2 separate regions of the Homo sapiens genome follow, and region 1 is linked to region 2. Evidence: fine-mapped expression QTL. Tissue or cell type: hypothalamus. Region 2 holds a variant in brackets; the other region holds the start of a gene. All regions are shown on one strand. Distances are between the middles of the regions.

Region 1 (8,912 bases), 36 kb after region 2:
TCTAAATATTCAGAAAACAACAAGAGATTGTACCTTTAGACCTAACAATTACAGATGGAGGGATGGAGGGATGATCGGAAGCTAGAGGACCTATGGTACTTACCAAGTCCATCTAGCGCTCATTATGAGGTACTTCTTCATACCTCTAGAAACTCTAGATTTGAAATATTTGCCCAGATGTATCTACTTGTTAAAGAAAAAAAAAGACAACCTTGTTTCTGTTTAGGGCTTCCCAGTTTTGCAAGCACTTTGTTGTCATTGTTTGAGATGGAGTCTCGCTCTGTTGCCCAGGCTGGAGTGCACTGGCGAGATCTCAGCTCACCGCAACCTCCGCCTCCACGGTTCAAGCAATTATCCTGCCTTAGCTTCCTGAGTAGCTGGGATTACAGGTACCCGCCACCACACCTGGCTAATTTTTGTATTTTCAGTAGAGACAGGGTTTCACCATGTTGGTTGGCCAGGCTGGTCTTGAACTCCCGACCTCAGATGATCCACCTGCCTCGGCCTCCCAAAGTGCTGGGATTACAGGCGTGAGCCACCGTGCCCAGCCCTGCAAGCACTTTGAAATCCATTACTTCCTCTGACGGCACACAGGTAAGCTGTATGCCACTCCTATGCATCCGGAAGTGGTCTTACCCTTTGTGCTGGCCCCCTCTGTGTGCTTGGTTCCTCTGGCTTTCCAAATACATGGCCTCTGCCTGCAGGTGCTCCCCTGCCCAGAGCTGGGTCCAAAGGTTTAGAAGCTTGTGGCCAACAGCCTGGCATCCGTACAGCCTGGCACTGGGATGGGTGGATAGGAGACTGGCCCCTGAACGATGGTCGGAAAGGATCCATGGACGGGCTGTAGAGAACACGTGTCGATCCTGTTCTGGTTAATTACCTGCCATCATTTTCAAAAGATTAAGATTCCCAATTGTTTTCCTTTTCCTTCAAGACACACTCACAAAGCATTAAAATAGTATTTTGAGTCAGTCCAGTAACACGCCTAGCCTTCTACAACATATTCACTTCAAAGGCTTCTATTTGATCTGTAATATTCTAAACATCCTTCATTAACAATCCCTCAGAGCAGTGGTCCCCAACCTTTTTGGCACCAGAGACTGGTTTCCTGGAAGATAATTTTTCCATGGACCCAGGGGTGGGGGGATGGTTTCAGAGTGACTCAAATACATTACATTTATTGTGTACTTTATTTCTATTATTACATTATAATAGATAATGAAATATAATAATTATACAATTCACCATAATGTAGAATCAGTGGGAGCCCTGATCTTGTTTTCCTGCAACTAGCTGGTCCCATCTGTGGGTGATGGGAGACAGTGACAGATCATCAGGCATTAGATTCTCATAAGGAGGATGCAACCTAGATCCCTCCAATGCGAAGTTCACAAGAGGGTTTGCACAATGAGAATCTAATGCCACCAGTGATCCGACAGGAGGCAGAGCTCAGGTGATACTACAAGCCATGGGGAGCAGCTGTCAATACAGATGAAGCTTTGCTCATTTGCCAATCTCTCACCTCCTGCTGTGCAGCCCAGTTCCTAACAGGCCCCCCAACCAGCCTGTGGCCTGGGGGTTGGGAACCCCTGCCTTAGAGGCCCGTGTCCTCCTTGAACTTACTTATATTTTCTACCCAAATAGCCTCTCACAAAACTCAGTCCTGTGAGTTAACTAGCTGTTGTATAAGGAAGCAGTTTTTTAGGAGGGTCTCCTTCTGTCGCCCAGGCTGGAGTGCAGTGGCATGATCATGGCTCACTGCAGCCTTGACCTCCTGGGCTCAAGTGACCCTCACATCTCAGTCTCCTGAGTAGCTGGGACTACAGGCATGCACCACAACACCCAGCTAATTTGTACATTTTTTGTACAGACGGGGTCTTGCCACGTTGCCAAGGCTGGTCTCAAACACCTGGGCTCAAGAGATCTGCTGCCTCAGCATCCCAAAATGCTGGGATAATAGGTGTGAGCCACTGCACCTGGCTAAGGCAGTTTTTATGTATGAGGATGACTTTGGTTTATAAACAATTTCTTTTCCTCCCCCCCTTTTTTTTTTAGACGGAGTTTCACTCTTATTGCCAAGGCTGGAGTGCAATGGTGCAATCTTGGCTCACCGCAACCTCTGCCTCCTGGGTTCAAGTGATTCTCCTGCCTCAGCGTCCCGAGTAGCTGGGATTACAGGCATGCAGCACCATGCTCGGCTAATTTTGTATTTTTAATAGAGACGGGGTTTCTCTATGTTGGTCAGGCTGGTCTCGAACTCCCGACCTCAGGCGATCAGCCCACCTGGGCCTCCCAAAGTGCTGGGATTACAGGTGTGAGCCACTGTGCCTGGCCTATAAACAATTTCATAGTTAACACAGCCATATCATAAAATTATTGTCAACAAATATTTATGGGTTTTTGCTTTGTTTTTGGCCTCTCTTTCCTACATAAGAGTCCTAACTTTTTTCCAGTCTATGATTGCACCAAATTCTCTTCCTTGATCTGTTTAGCTGCTTCTCCGAATCTCTATCCAATTCTTTTTTACAAAATTCTTCCTTCAGGCTGAGCACACACACACAGTGGTTCATGCCTGTAATCCCAGCACTCTGGGAGGCCCAGGTGGGAGGACCATTGAGGCCAGGAGTTTGAGGCCAGTCTTAGGAACACAACGAGACCCTGTCTCTACAAATAATTAAAAAATAGAAAAAAAAATTTTAAAAACTCTCTTCTTTCAAACTCCATCAGAAGTCTCCAGAGTACACAGTCTTTCTGCTTTGAGCCTACAATACTTGCTCAGTCTCACAGGTTGCATTTAACACCCTTCTCTCTCCCAGGTTACCCGGGGTGAGGCTCTCCCTGGCTTCCCTACCAAATCTAAAGCCCATCAGGTCTCTTCAAAATCACTTCATAACCTGTAGGTCGGGCATGGTGGCCCATGCCTGTAATCACAGCACTTTGGGAGGCCGAGGCGGGTGGATCACTTGAGATCAGGAGCTCAAGAGCAGCGTGGCAAACATGATGAAACCCTGTCTTTACTAAAAATACAAAAATTAGCCAGGCATGGTGGTGCATGCCTGTAATCCCCCCTCCTCAGGAGTCTGAGGCACAAGAATTGCTTGAACCCAGGAGGCGGAGGTTGCAGTGAGTCAAGATCGTGGCACTCCAGCCTGGGTGACAGCACAAGATTCTGTCTCAAAAAAAAAAATATATATATATATATCACTTTATAACCTACAGATTTCAAGACTCCCTCTTTAAGGGGCTCCTCTCATTGTCCTGACTTGCCCCTGATTCCTGAAAAATATTTCTTAACGGAAAAGAATTTTTTTTTTTTAAGAGACAGGGTCTTGTTCTGTCATCCAGGCTACAGTGAAGTGGTGGCATCTTAGCTCACTGCAGTCTCAACCTCCTGTGCTCAAGCAGTCCTCTTGTCTCAGCCTCCCAAGTAGCTAGGACTTCAGGCACCTGCCACCATACCCAGCTAATTTTTAAAAAAAATTTGTAGAGACGGGATCTTGCCATGTTGCCCAGGCTGGTCTCAAACTGCTGACCTCAAGTGATCCTCTCACCTCAGACTCCCCAAATGCTGGGAGAAGCCTCTTCTTAACTTTCAAAAAGCTGTCTTGGCCGGGGGTGGTGGCTCGCGCCTGTAATCCCAGCACTCTGGAAGGCCAAGGTGGGCAGATCACAAGGTCAGGGGTTCGAGACCAGCCTGACCAAAATGGTGAACCCTCATCTCTACTAAAAATACAAAAATTAGCTGGGCATGGTGGCCTGCGCCTGTAATCCCAGCTACTCGGGAGGCAGAGGCAGGAGAATCGCTTGAACCTGGGAGGCGGAGGTTGCAGTGAGCAGAGATCACGCCACTGCACTCCAGCCTGCGCTACGGAGCGAGACTCCGTCTCAAAACAAACAAACAAACAAACAAAAAAGCTGTCTTAAGTATTAGCTACAGAGAAATCATACATTTAAAGAAAATATTAACACACAATTCATAAACCCACAGCGTAAGTGCAGACAGTTCAGGAACTTGCAAAATTTATTGAACTAAACTATCCTCTTTCACACTCTAAACGCAGGATATGACTCCCTTTCTTGAAGGCTATATTTAACTGCTAACACCCCTTTTCGGTGAGCCAGGACTCTGCTCACACCTCCCCAACACCACCCAAAGAATCCCAAGCAATCAGTATGCTAACAGCTACATACTCAGAAGCGCTGGACGGCCTCCCTTAAGGGACATCTGGAATCTTCCTCTTTGTCCACGCTTCCCTCAACCTCCAGCACCACTTCTATAGATTCAGGTAGCTCCCCCAGAGGGCCCTCTCCCAGTGTGGGTTTCCCCCTGGGATCAGGTAGCAGATACTTGGCTGTCCGAAAGGTTCAATGGGGAGCGAACCCAGGACGGGCTGGGCCTGCCTCCCTCGCATCCCTGGGTGCGTGCTCCGCGCTGAGGCCTCGCGACTCGGGCCTAACCAGAAGCAAGGCCCCCGAAGGCGAGTCCCATCCCCTTTCCACCCCGAGAAAAGCACCTTTCCCCAAAGCCACAGCCCTGCCAGGGGTTCTATCTCCTCTCTCAGGCCAAATAAGACGTCCACTTGGGCCTCCGGAGGGCCTCCCCTGCCGCCCCAACCTGGACACCTTCTTGGGGCCGCGGCGCCGGGCCTCGAATAACGACTTCCCGCCCCCGCCCGACCCGCAACCCTCAGCAGCTCCCCGAAGTGGGAGGGGAGAGGCCCGGGAGGGCGGCTCACCCCACGTGCTTGAGCAAAAACCCAACCTGCCCGCCCCCGAGCGACCCTGGCCTGCCTGGCATGCCGCAACCGGGGCCAGTACTCACCTGTGCGCGAGTCCTCGCCCCAGTCGCCCAGCTCCGCGCGGCCTCAGGGGAAGACCGAGCTCAACCCACGCCCCGGGGCCCACATGCTCCAGGGCCAATTTCCGCTCTTCGAGGCCTCCGGGGATGAGCCCATTGGCCACAAGACCTGTCGTTCACAAGAGCAAGCTATCTAATTGGCCCATCTGCAAGAGAGGCTCGTCCTTTCCAGCAGGTTCCCTGTGCAGGGGCGGTTCGTGCGGAAGGAGCGCTGGGAGTTATGTGAACCTCAGCGTTAAAATGTGTTAGGGTTTGGAGATCCTGACTCCCTTTCTGGGGGCAACTCCTATAAACAGATTTAGCCTAAGACTCGCGTGTTGAAATTGACTTGCCCCATTCCTGCCAGTTAAGAGGATTAGCGATACAGGTGGTGAAAAAGAAACGGTAAGCTCGAGTGCGCATTCAAACACCTAATTCATATGATTTCTGCACATCACTTTCGTTATACATAAAACAGAGATAAAAACTAAAAACATCCATTCATAGGGTTGAATGGAAATGTACACACATAATGACATAACGTATGTAAAATACTTAGCACAAGGAGAAGACGACCCTCGATAAATGTTGCCTATTTTTATTGATGCCTAAATCTGTGAGCCAAGAAGAGCTTTCTAGGAAGCAGATTAAATTATCAGTGGTTACTTCAGCAACTACAGAATGATTTTACCCAAAGAAAGATTTCTGACCCTCTCCCAACCATTTTGTCAAATAACTGCATCCCTCTCCCACACCCAGGTTTTACAGTGTGGTTGAGGTAAAGCTTCTGAAGGCTTTGGCGGATGCTATAGAGACATCCAAGGGCTCTGCATGGAATAGGACTAGAGAAGGGTTAACCTTATTTTTTCCAGGCCTCAGATATCCCATGACTTATTTTAATCCACACATACAAGGGCCCTCCCTATCCTTCCCGAATGAGGATAGTCTGAAAATTATTGGAGCAGGATGATTTTCAACTCAGGAATCCAGTTGGCACGATGCCCCTTCACTGTTCCTAGATAGTATTTGTTTACCATGATCTAACATTTTCACTTCCTTTACCACACAACCTTCTTAACTTGCAGCTGTTGCAATGTTATGTTGTAAGCAATTCTCCTGCCTGTGCAAATACTTAATGGTAGCAAGTGCAGTCAAAAACAGTTATACAAACTGTTTTGTAACTTTCGTGAAGATCCAACTCCTTGTTCTTTTAGGAACTCCGACCAAACTTTGCATGACACACTTATTCTATACACATGAAACAATATTTTGGGGGCAGGATTCAGCAAATCTTCTAGTTGAAGTAAGGGAATAATAATCCTCAGATAATTTCCTGAGTATGTCTTCTATTTGGGAACCTAAACCAAGAGCACCATTACAAAGGGTATGCACATTGGGTTTCCTAGATTTCTATATCCTGTCCATCCATGCAAGTGTAGGTGGCCTTCGTACAGTATTTCTAGCTAATCCAGACATCATTAACACTACTTATTTAACCAAAGGAAAATCCATATAGTCCTGCTGTTGATTGGACATAAAAATGGTTGAAGCTTTCTGAAACGTGGACATCTATTTAGGACCTTTCAAAAGCTAATCAACCTCTTTTGGAGATTATATTCCCTAACAGAGTACTTTAATTGTTAATTAGCCATCCCTAGGATATTGATTAAAAAGGACACACATAATCTCATCACAAAAAGATGAGTATGTGAGGTGATGGATATGTTAATTTGGTTTAATCATTCCACAATGTAAATAAATATCAGAATATCATACTGTACCACATAACCATATGTAATTGCTATTTGTTAATTAAAAATGAAAGGGGCAAAAAGAGCACGTATATCACACTAAGAGATAGTATTTTGAGATAAATCACAGATTTTTTTTTTAACTCAAAAAAGTCGTAACACCAAATTCTGTCCACCTGGCCCTGCCAGTCTCTAAAATTCAGAGTGAAAATGGCCCCATAACTATACATAACCTGAATTTTCCTAGGCAGTCATGACTCCAAATACCCTGGGCACTTGGTCACCATAAATATTTCTATTCCAACCATGTATTCTGGTTTGTTGTTGTTGTTGTTGCTGCTGTTCAGAAAATAAGATCCCCAGAGCCACAGCAAGATTAAGGGCAGAAAATTACATTACTGGTGGGGCCTAAAACCTATAGGAAGGATTTCATTTAAAGTAGACCTATGTAGTATGTCTGGGTTCCTGGCAGAGATAACTAGAAATCCTTTCAGGAGAAATACACCAGGCTCCCAAAACTCCCACGTAAAAGGTATGAATAAATATGAGCTCACGAAACACATCAGGCCGAATAACAGGAGGACACACAATCTAATAAAAAAATGGGCAAAAGGTATGGTGGCTCACATCTGTAATCCCAGCACTTTAGGAGGCCAATGTGGGCAGATGGCCTGAGGTCAGGAGTTCGAGACCAGCCTGGCCAACATGGTGAAATGCTGTCTCTACTAAAAACATAAAAATTAGCCAGGCATGTTGGTGTGGTGCCTGTAATCCCAGCTACTCGTGAGGCTGAGGCAGGAGAATCACTTGAACCCGGGAGGCGGAGGTTACAGTGAGCTGAGATCACGCCACTGCACTCCAGCCTGGGCAACAAGTGCAAAACTCTCTCTCAAAAAAAAAGGGGGGGGGGCCAAAAGATGTGAGTGGACCTGTGTCAGTCCATTAGTCCCTTTAGTGTTACTATAAAGGAATACCTGAGGCTGGGTAATTTATAAAGAAAAGAGGTTTATCGAGCTCATGGTTATGCTGGCTGGAAGGTTCAAGACTGGACACCTGGTGAGGACCTCAGGGTGCTTCCACTCATGGCAGAAGGCAAAGAGACCCGGCCTGTGCAGAGATTACATGGAGAGAGAGGAAGCAAGAGAGGGGAGGGAAGCGCTAGGTTCTTTTTAACAACCAGCTCTTGTTGGAACTAATAAGCCCTTTAGTAGAGACAGGGTTTCACCATATTGCCCAGGCTGGTCTTGAACTCAGTGGCTTATGGGTGTGAGCCACCACCCCTGACTGGAGCCGTAAAATTTAATGGAATTTGTCCTTCAGTATCTGCAGAGTATTGGTTTTTAGGACCTCCCTCCATGGATACCAAAATTCACAGATGCTCAAGTCTCTTATATAAAATGGTGTATTTTATATTTGCATATAACCTATGCACATTTCCCTGTATACTTTAAATTGTCTCTAGATGAATTATAATACCAAATACAGTGTAAATGCTACATAAATAGTTGTTACACTGTATTGTTTAGGGAATAATTACAAGAAAAAAGTCTGCACCTGTTCAGTACTGATGCAGCCATCCTTTTTGTTTTTTCCAAATATTTTTGATTTGTGGTTGGTTTAATCCATGGATGCAGAACCCGTGGATAGGGAGGGCCTATTGTATTTAGATGAGATCTTAGACTTGCAATTGATACTGAAACGGTGTAAGACTTTGGGGGCTGTTAGGATGGGGCGAATGTGTTGCATGTGAGAAGAACATGAATTTGCGGGGGACAGAGGGAGGAATGTTAGGGAGTGAATTGTGTCCTCCTTGCAAAACCTATGTTGAAGCCCTAATCCCCTGTATTTGGAGATAAAGTATGTAGGGAGATAATTAACATAAATGAGGTAAGGAGGAGCTCTAATCTGATAGGATTTGTGTCCTTATCAGAAGAGAAAGACATGAGATCTTTCTCTATCTCTATCCCTCTCTCTTCATGGAAGCACAGAGACAAGGCCATGTGAGGACACAGCAAGATGGCGGCCATCTATAAACTAGGGAGATGGTACTCACCAGAAATCAAATTTGCCAGCACCTTGATCATAGAATCATAGTCTCCAGAGCTGTGAGAAAACAAATGTGTGTTGCTGAGGCCACCCAGTCTGTGGCAATTTGTTATGGCAGGCCTGTCTGACTAATAGAATAACAGAAGTCAGCAAGGATGTGGTGGAACAGGAACCCTCAGACATTGCCAGTGGGAATGTAAAATGATGCAGCCTCTTTGGGAAACATTTGGCAGTTTCTCAAAAAGTTAAGAAAAAAATTACTGTAGGAACCAAAATTT
Region 2 (8,000 bases):
GACCTGAGCAATGCATTCCTCCATTTTTAATTACTGTCTGAATCCCAAAGCAACCTCCCCTTACTGTTTATACATGAAAGTAAGTTCTGGGAAAGAAAAAAAAAAGACAATCAACTTGACATTTTTTAAACACAATAAGCACAGTTAAGATCTAGATCAGGGATCAGCAAAGGACTAAAGGGTAAATAACTTAGGCTTTGTGAGTCTTATGATTTCTGTAGAAAACACAGGTTGAGCATTCCCAAATCTGAAAAGCTTTTGAGCACCGACATGACACTCAAAGAGTTTCAGATTTTGGAGTGTTTCAGATTGCAGATTTTTGAATTTGGGATGCAAGCAAATGAACCCAAACCCCCAGAAATCTAAAATCCAAAATGCTTCTGGTCCCAAGTATTTCAGAAAAAGCATACTTGACCTTTATTTAATTCTATCTGCTTAACACAAAAGCAGTCATGGACAGTATGAAAAGGAGTATGGCTGTATTCCAGTGAAATTTTATTTAAAGACACTGAAAACTCACTTCATATAATTTTCATGTGTCACGGAATAATCATCTTAGTTTTATTTTTTCCGCCATTTAAAAACATAAAAACCAGGTTGGGCATGGTGGCTCACACCTGTAATCCCAGCATTTTGGAAGGCTGAGGTGGGCAGATCACCAGGTCAGGAGTTTGAGACCAGCCTGGCCAACATGGTGAAATCCCATCTGTACTAAAAATACAAAAATTAGCTGGGTATGGTGGCGGGCACCTGTAATCCCAGCTACTCAGGAGGCTGAGGCAGGAGAATTGCTTGAACCTGGGAGGTGGACGTTGCAGTGAGCCAAGATCGTGCCATCGCACTCCAACCTGGGCGACAAGAACAAGAATCCGTCTCAAAAACACAAAAAACAAAAAACAAACAAACATAAAACCCATTCTTAGATAATGGGCTGAAGAGGCAGGGAGCCATTTAGACTACTGAGTAAGTGTTGAGAAGAGGAAGCATAACGAATAAGGAAAAACAGGAAAACAGCTTGGAGGATTCTCTGGAGAGGCAAACTGAACCATCTCGGCATCACTCACCAGAGGAATATCCACTCCCCAGAGCTCACCACCCAATTTACAGTTAATCTGAAGTAAAATCTTCTGGGCCACACTCCGAAGCCTGGTGGGCTGACCAATGGTTCGAACATTGACAACCTATAATGAAGGGACCAAAAGGTGTCAGGAGAAGCAGGTCACTATCAACCTCTCAGAAAATCTGAACTCTAAAGTAAACATTACATTTGTTTAAGAAACTCAAGTTAGAAGATAACACATTTCGCATTAATAATTCTAATTCTAGGGTTTCTAGGCATGCATGCACATGGGCAAAATACAACACACACACACACACATACACACACACCACAAACCCAAAACAAAATAAAACCAACAAATGAAAACTTTCAAAAGGATCTCACGCAGAGTGGAATGCTTTTTTAACTCCCATAGGAAAAATAGCTTTCCCCTTTCAGAATGAAGCCTATATTCACTCTCAGAACTCAGTCACATGAAACCACCTGGTGACTCAACCTCGGAACAAGCGAAACTGTTCATTTGGAAGCATGAGGGCAGCTTATGAAGAGCAATCTACTCTTTGCCAGGTTGCTCTAATCAGGAGAACCTTTCACCAGAAGGCTCAGCACATACTGGCTTCTAACAGCTACTTTAGTCTTTGTGAACACACATATCCCTCTTCTCAAGCCTCGGGGAGGCGAGAGGTGCCATCTGCGCCTCCTGCCCCAACACCCACTCACCTGGGAGGGCACTGGGGACTGCACACAGCACAGCTTCTTGATGGCCCCATAGAGATCATCACGTGGGCCCATGATGATGCAAACAACCATCTGTATCTTCCCCTTGAGGAGATAAGGTATATACAAGTCAGGCTGTGGAATTCTCTGGGGACTTTTACAGGACTCTAGTTGGCAGTATTCTGAGTATGCAAAGCCATAGGACCTTTAAGGAAGACAGGGAACTGAAATAAAGAGGGTGGACATTCCAACCAGAACAAGGTCCTTGGAGCTGAATTAGCATTCTTTGGCTCAGGGCTGTTCTGTATAGATAGGTAATATGTTACTATTAATTACCCAGAGCTGGCCCTGATTACCAAAAGATTTATCTATTAGAAGACTCAGATGGCTGGAAAAGGACCAGGTTTGAATGCATGCAAGGTTTACATTACTTGCTGCTTCCAATTCAGTATAATGTTTTTTACTACTCTCTTTGGTTTACTAAACAACTTATTACACTCATACCACAGAACTTTAACCAAGGAAACAGGGAATGCAATACTACAAGAAAGCATTCAGAACTAAATGCAAACTGGAATGAAGCTATTGCCAAATTCATGAGCAGCCACTCCTAACTCTGGTGAAGAGACAGAATGATATTGTCAGCAGCACAGCATGTCAGTATCATCTATTCCTCACTGCTGAAGGAATCCAATATTGAAAAAAGAGGACCTTTCAAAGCCTGAATAAAGAAAAGCAGCACTCAAGTGAAAGAAGGTTGCCAACCCTTTAAGCCAGAAACTGCTACAAATGGTAAATCAGTGGTACCCTACTCCAAATCAAGATTGGTGTAATGTTAAGACTGTTCAGAGGACACATTGAGCAACGACACCAAGCATTTCCAAAGGCATGAGAACAGAGCTGCGCACTGGGAGCCTATGGACTGGACACAGCAAACAGGTGCGTTTTTTCAGGCCCTACAATGACTTAAAAGTGTTTATGTTTGTTTAAATTAACATTTAAACATAGGAAGATACACACATATGCAATTCCAGGTTTTTGGCCTTTACCAACAAACAAGCACATTAAGAATCATTTTGGCAATCCTGGGTTTATATCTCCAGTCACAGGAGTTACCCTCTTTAGTTCATTTCACTCCCCTCCTGGCCCACTTCACTCATTTATACTCCTTATCAGGCTCCTGGAGACATACGAGTTTGTGATTCCTCATAGAGATGATAATGGAATGCCTTAAAGATGAACAGACAGAGCAAGGCCGCTATGAGATAAGTTGGTAAGCGATATGAATGAAATTCACATCCATGCCACATGAAAACTGTCAGTTGTACCCTCTCAAAAAGGGAACACAAGTTGTGAAATGGGGGAGCTGATGTACTGGGCTGGGTTATTCTTTTGAAAGCAGAGCAGAACTTATCTATGATCAGGTCTGAGGGAGGCCATGGTAGAGTATGACAGGCATGGTAGATCAGGATGGAATTATAGAGAATGCACAGGCTGGGTGCAGTGGCTCACACCTGTAATCCCAGCACTTTGGGAGGTGGAGGTGGGAGGACTGATTGAGGCTGGGAGTTTGAGATCAGCCTGGGCAACAGAAGGAGACCCCATCTCTACAAAAAATTTAAAAATTAGCCAGGAGTGGTGGTGCACGTGTACAGTTACAGCTACTCAGAAGGCTGAGGCAGGAGGATCCCTTGGGCCCTCAAGTTTCATGTTACAGTCAGCTATGATCATGCCACTGTACTTTAGCCTGAGCAACAGAGTCAAGACTTTGTGTCTAAAAAAAGAGAGAGAGAAACACACCAAAGAAAGAACACAAGTGTGCTGTTGTGAATGATACACCAAGAGTGCCAGATCAAAAACAGAATGCTGCTGGGCATGGTGACTCACGCCTGTAATCTCACTGCTTTGGGAGGTTGAGGCAGCAGGATCACTTGGGGCCAGAAGCTCGAGACCAGCCTGGGCAACATAGTGAAACCCTACCTCTATAATTTTTTTTTTTAATTAGCCAGGTGTGATGGCCCACGCCTGTAGTTCCAGCTACTTGGAAGGCTGAGGCGGAAGGATTGCTTGAGCCCAGGAGTTTGAGGCAACAATGAGCTAAGATCGCACCAGTGTACTCCACATGGGTGACAGAGTAAAATCCTATCTCATTTTTTTTTTTTTTTTTGGAGAAAAGGTCTCACTCTGTTGCCCAGGTTGGAGTAAAGTGGCATGATCATAGCTCACTGCAGCCTCAACCTCCCCAGGCTCAGGTGATTCTCCCACCTCAGCCTCCTGAGTAGCTGGTACTACAGGTGCATGCCACCACACCCAGCTAATGTTTAGATTTTTTGTAGAGACAGGGTTTTGCCAGGTTGCCCAGGCTGGTCTCAAACTCCTGGGCTCAAGCAACCCGCCCACCTCAGCATCCCAACGTGCTGGAATTCCAGGCGTGAGCCACTGTGCGCCCAGCTGACCCAATCTCTCAAAAAAAAATTTAAAAAAAGAACTCTATGATGCCAAGATGATTGAATTCTAGGATTGAACTCACCAGAACAATTTACCAGAATGTTCAATTCAAGGGCTAATTACTTCCAAAAGCCTTCCCCTTGCTTTTTTCTCTCCCTATTCCTCTTGTTCGATTTTATTTACAAACAGGTAAGAACTGAAAAGCCTGAATAACTAAGTTGTGAGTGCTATGACCTGGCCAGCTCTAGTGTTCCTGATCAGTCATCAGGACCCAATCAATGGGCCATCTGCCAAGTTCATCACCAGAGTAATTTTAATCTTGAACCAGGCCGGACTGAGGCAGCTCAGTAGTGAATCGTGCAAGACGGCACCTAACCCAAGCTGCTGCTTTCTGAGCACAACATGTTCTA[T/C]AGATAATGAACCACAGTTAAGTCAGCTATTCTCTCAGCCAGTTACGTAAGAAAAAGAAGACTAGAGTAAGTGAGGGTGCCAACACAGAGTGAGAGAAGCAAAATTAACCAAAGGGCATAAAGAACACTTTTCAATCAGTATTTCATGTGCGCATGGGTAAGACAAGTTCTAGGGCATCATCAACAGCAGACTGATAACCATGATACATTAAAATTAAGTATTTAAGTAATTTAAAATGGACATCCTATAAATTTATTTGAATTACATTTTTACCTCAGCTCCTAACGTGGATTGAATGGTTCTGACATAAGTCTCTATTCGGTCATCCTTTAGTTCAACCCAGGCCGGTGGGCTCATACGCATGCCAATGGGGCCGGCTATCTTCTCCAACATGTTGACCAGTTCTCGAGCCTGGTCCATTGCTCTCTTTGGGTAAAAAAGTGCCCAGAAATGCATGGGGATCTAGGAACAACCAAGAGCTTTTAGTATTTCTCACAATTTAAATATCCCAAACTCATACTTAAGATTTCATTCTAGAGAATAAATTACTTTTCACTCTCATTGCTTGAATCCTGTCTTATCTAACTCCTGTATTAACATGAACGTACATGATAAGAAAACTGTGGCGTAGTCTCAAAATGGAATGTTATACAGTAATGAGAATGGAAGAGCAACAACCATGCCTAACAACAGGATGAAACTCACTAACACAAATTTAAGAAAAGAAGCCAGACACAGAAGAATATATAATCTATGATTCCATGTATATGTAAAGTACAGAAATTGGTAAAATCAATCTGTGCTGTGAAAAGTCAGGACAGTGGCTATACTGGGTGTGTGAGGGGTAAGGGATAGGCAGGAACTGGGAGAATGGAGGGGGCTTCTGGAGTGCTGGTAAAGTTCTGCATCTTAACCCTTGGTGTGGATTACACAGGTCTATTTAATTAAAAAAAAACTCATCAAGTTACACGTTTATAAGTGTGCTTTTCGTTTATATTTCAATAAAACATTTAAAAACATGCATTTTATATATCTGTTTTTATATATCTGGCCATGAAGTCCATGTTGGTCAAAAACACTGAGAAGTAATTATATGCCATTTTGTACCTTGATACAAATAGCTAGTGTATTATTAGTTCCCTAGGTGAGGTACTGTTTTAATCTAACTTCTTTCACGGATACAAATACCCTCTAGATACTCCCGGGGAAAAAGAGGGGGAAAAGAGAAAGAAAGAAGGGAGAGTGGGTAACAGGTTGGCACTATGTGAATTACCACAGCAATTTATTTCCTTTCCCTAAGTCTATGGTCAGGCAAAGGGCTTACCTCTAACAACTCATCAACTGCTCTGTTTGAAGGATCCCTGGTTAGTAGGTAATTCAGAATGGGGATTCAATTGGTACTTTCCCTCAAAAAAGAAGACTCTAGATCATTCCTGCTTCCTAATTCCCACACTTTGGGGAATACTGGTCCTCTCTTTATCACTTCAAAAATCACTTACAGTCAAGATGGAAGGGTCTCTGGTTACTTCCTTAACCCAGTTTAGTTCCTGAGATGTGATAAACGAAGTATTTTTTAAGTTAATTCTTTCCATTGGCAGAACACGTCCTTCAATCTAAACAGAAAATAAACCATCTATGACATGAGCCTTTTCAAACGCTATTTAGAAAAACACTGCTACTGCTCTATAAGGCCTGCTCAGCTCCACCACAGACACTTGTCCCTGTTAGAACTTTTGAGACTAGCAGAATAATAAAGCTTCTAGCAGTGAAAGTCCCTGTCAATAAAAACCTACATTTATATAGGTAAAATTATTATAGGTACTAGTCTTTCATTATTGAAGCTTCCACATGATATCCCAAGAAAGGGATTTGAAAACATTGTCTATTTAGAATGACTGAATAAAGGAAAACAATCTTCAAAAAATATTTTAAAGGGGCCGGGCACCGTGGCTCACGCCTGTAATCCCAGCACTTTGGGAGGCCGAGGAGGGCAGATCACTTGAGGTCAGGAGTTTGACACCAGCCTGGCCAACATGGTGAAACCCTGTCTCTACTAAAAATACAAAAATTAGCTGGGTGTGGTGGCGCATGCCTGTAGTCCCCAGCTACTTGGGAGGCAGAGGCAGGAGATTTACTTGAATCCGGGAGGAGGCTGCAGTGAGCTGAGATCACACCACTGCACTCCAGCCTGGGTGACAGGGCAAGACTCTGTCTCAAAAAAACTTTTTTAAATAAATAAATAAAATATAAGTATTAAAAACATAAATGTCCCTAAATTATTTTACCTTCATAAATTGGACTTAATATCCAAGGGGGCCGGGTGTGGTGGCTAACACCTGTAATCCCAGCACTTTGGGAGGCCAAGGCGGGTGGATCACGAGGTCAGGAGTTCAAGACCAGCCTGGCCAAGATGGTGAAACCCCGTCTCTACTAAAAATACAAAAATTAGCCGGACGTGGTGGCACGTGCTTGTAATCCCAGCTACTTGGGAAGCTGAGGCAGGAGAATCGCTTGAACCTGGGAGGTGGAGGTTGCAGTGAGCCGAGATTGCGCCATTACACTCCAGCCTGGCCAACAAGAATGAAACCCCATCTTAAAAAAACAGAAAAAAGAAAATAAACAAGGGCTAGCGTGGTGGCTCACACCTGTACTCCTAACACTTTGGGAGGCTAAGGTAGGCGGATCATTTGAGGTCAGGAGCTCGAGAGACCAGCCATGGCAACATGGTGAAACTCCGTCTCTACTAAAAATACAAAAATTAGCCAGGCATGGTGGTGTGCGCCTGTAATTCCAACTATTCGGGAGGCTGAGACAGGAGAATCACTTGGAATCCGTCTCAAAAAAATAAATAACACACACAAAGATTCAGTTGTAAGGATGTACACTGCATCGTTATTTTTTTAAATTAGTTAATTTTTTTTGAGATGGATTCTCCCTCTGTCTCCCAGGCTAGAGTGCAGTGGCCCCATCTTGGCTCACTGCAACCTCCACCTCCCGGGTTCAAGTGATTCTCCTACCTCAGCCTCCTGAGTAGCTGGTATTACAGGCTCGTGCCTCGACACTCAGCTAATTTTTGTGTTTTTAGTAGATATGGGGTTTTACCATGCTGGCCAGGCTCTTCTCGAACTCCTGACCTAAGGTGATCCACCTGCCTCAGCCTCCCAAAGTGCTGGGATTACAGGCGTGAGCCACCACGCCTGCCCTGCATCATTATTTATAATAGAAAAATACTAAATTCAATTTGAATGTAAAAGGATAGAAAACCGTTAATAAAAAGTATCAGGCAGCCATTAGAAATACTTAGAAAAATATGACCACGCACAGAGGTTCATACCTGTAATCCCAATAAGACTCTGTCTCAAAA

Which allele goes with the higher level. Alleles are on the strand shown, and positions count from the first base shown. SD is a standard deviation of normalised expression in the study named.
As copies of C replace T in region 2, the expression in hypothalamus of the gene that starts at base 4,905 in region 1 goes down (large effect, 0.78 SD a copy in GTEx).

The links. PIP is the estimated chance that this variant, and not a neighbour inherited with it, causes the effect.
Region 1: PIWIL2 starts here. The variant in region 2 is fine-mapped to the expression of PIWIL2 in hypothalamus (GTEx, PIP above 0.99).

The regions. Positions count from the first base shown.
Region 1 is chr8:22,271,309-22,280,220 of GRCh38, reverse strand. PIWIL2 (piwi like RNA-mediated gene silencing 2) reads right to left here and starts at 4,905. Exons shown (of 23, transcript NM_018068.5): 1 at 4,823-4,905; 2 at 637-880. The coding sequence starts at 834. PIWIL2-DT (PIWIL2 divergent transcript) reads left to right here and starts at 5,059. Exons shown (of 2, transcript NR_134293.1): 1 at 5,059-5,242. RefSeq lists an enhancer at 3,980-4,625.
Region 2 is chr8:22,308,210-22,316,209 of GRCh38, reverse strand. It overlaps PIWIL2 (piwi like RNA-mediated gene silencing 2), which reads right to left. Exons shown (of 23, transcript NM_018068.5): 15 at 6,136-6,249; 16 at 4,910-5,098; 17 at 1,781-1,882; 18 at 1,065-1,181. Among named protein-coding and RNA genes, the nearest start is that of PIWIL2, 37 kb to the right of the region's middle. The variant T/C (reference allele first, on the strand shown) is at 4,636.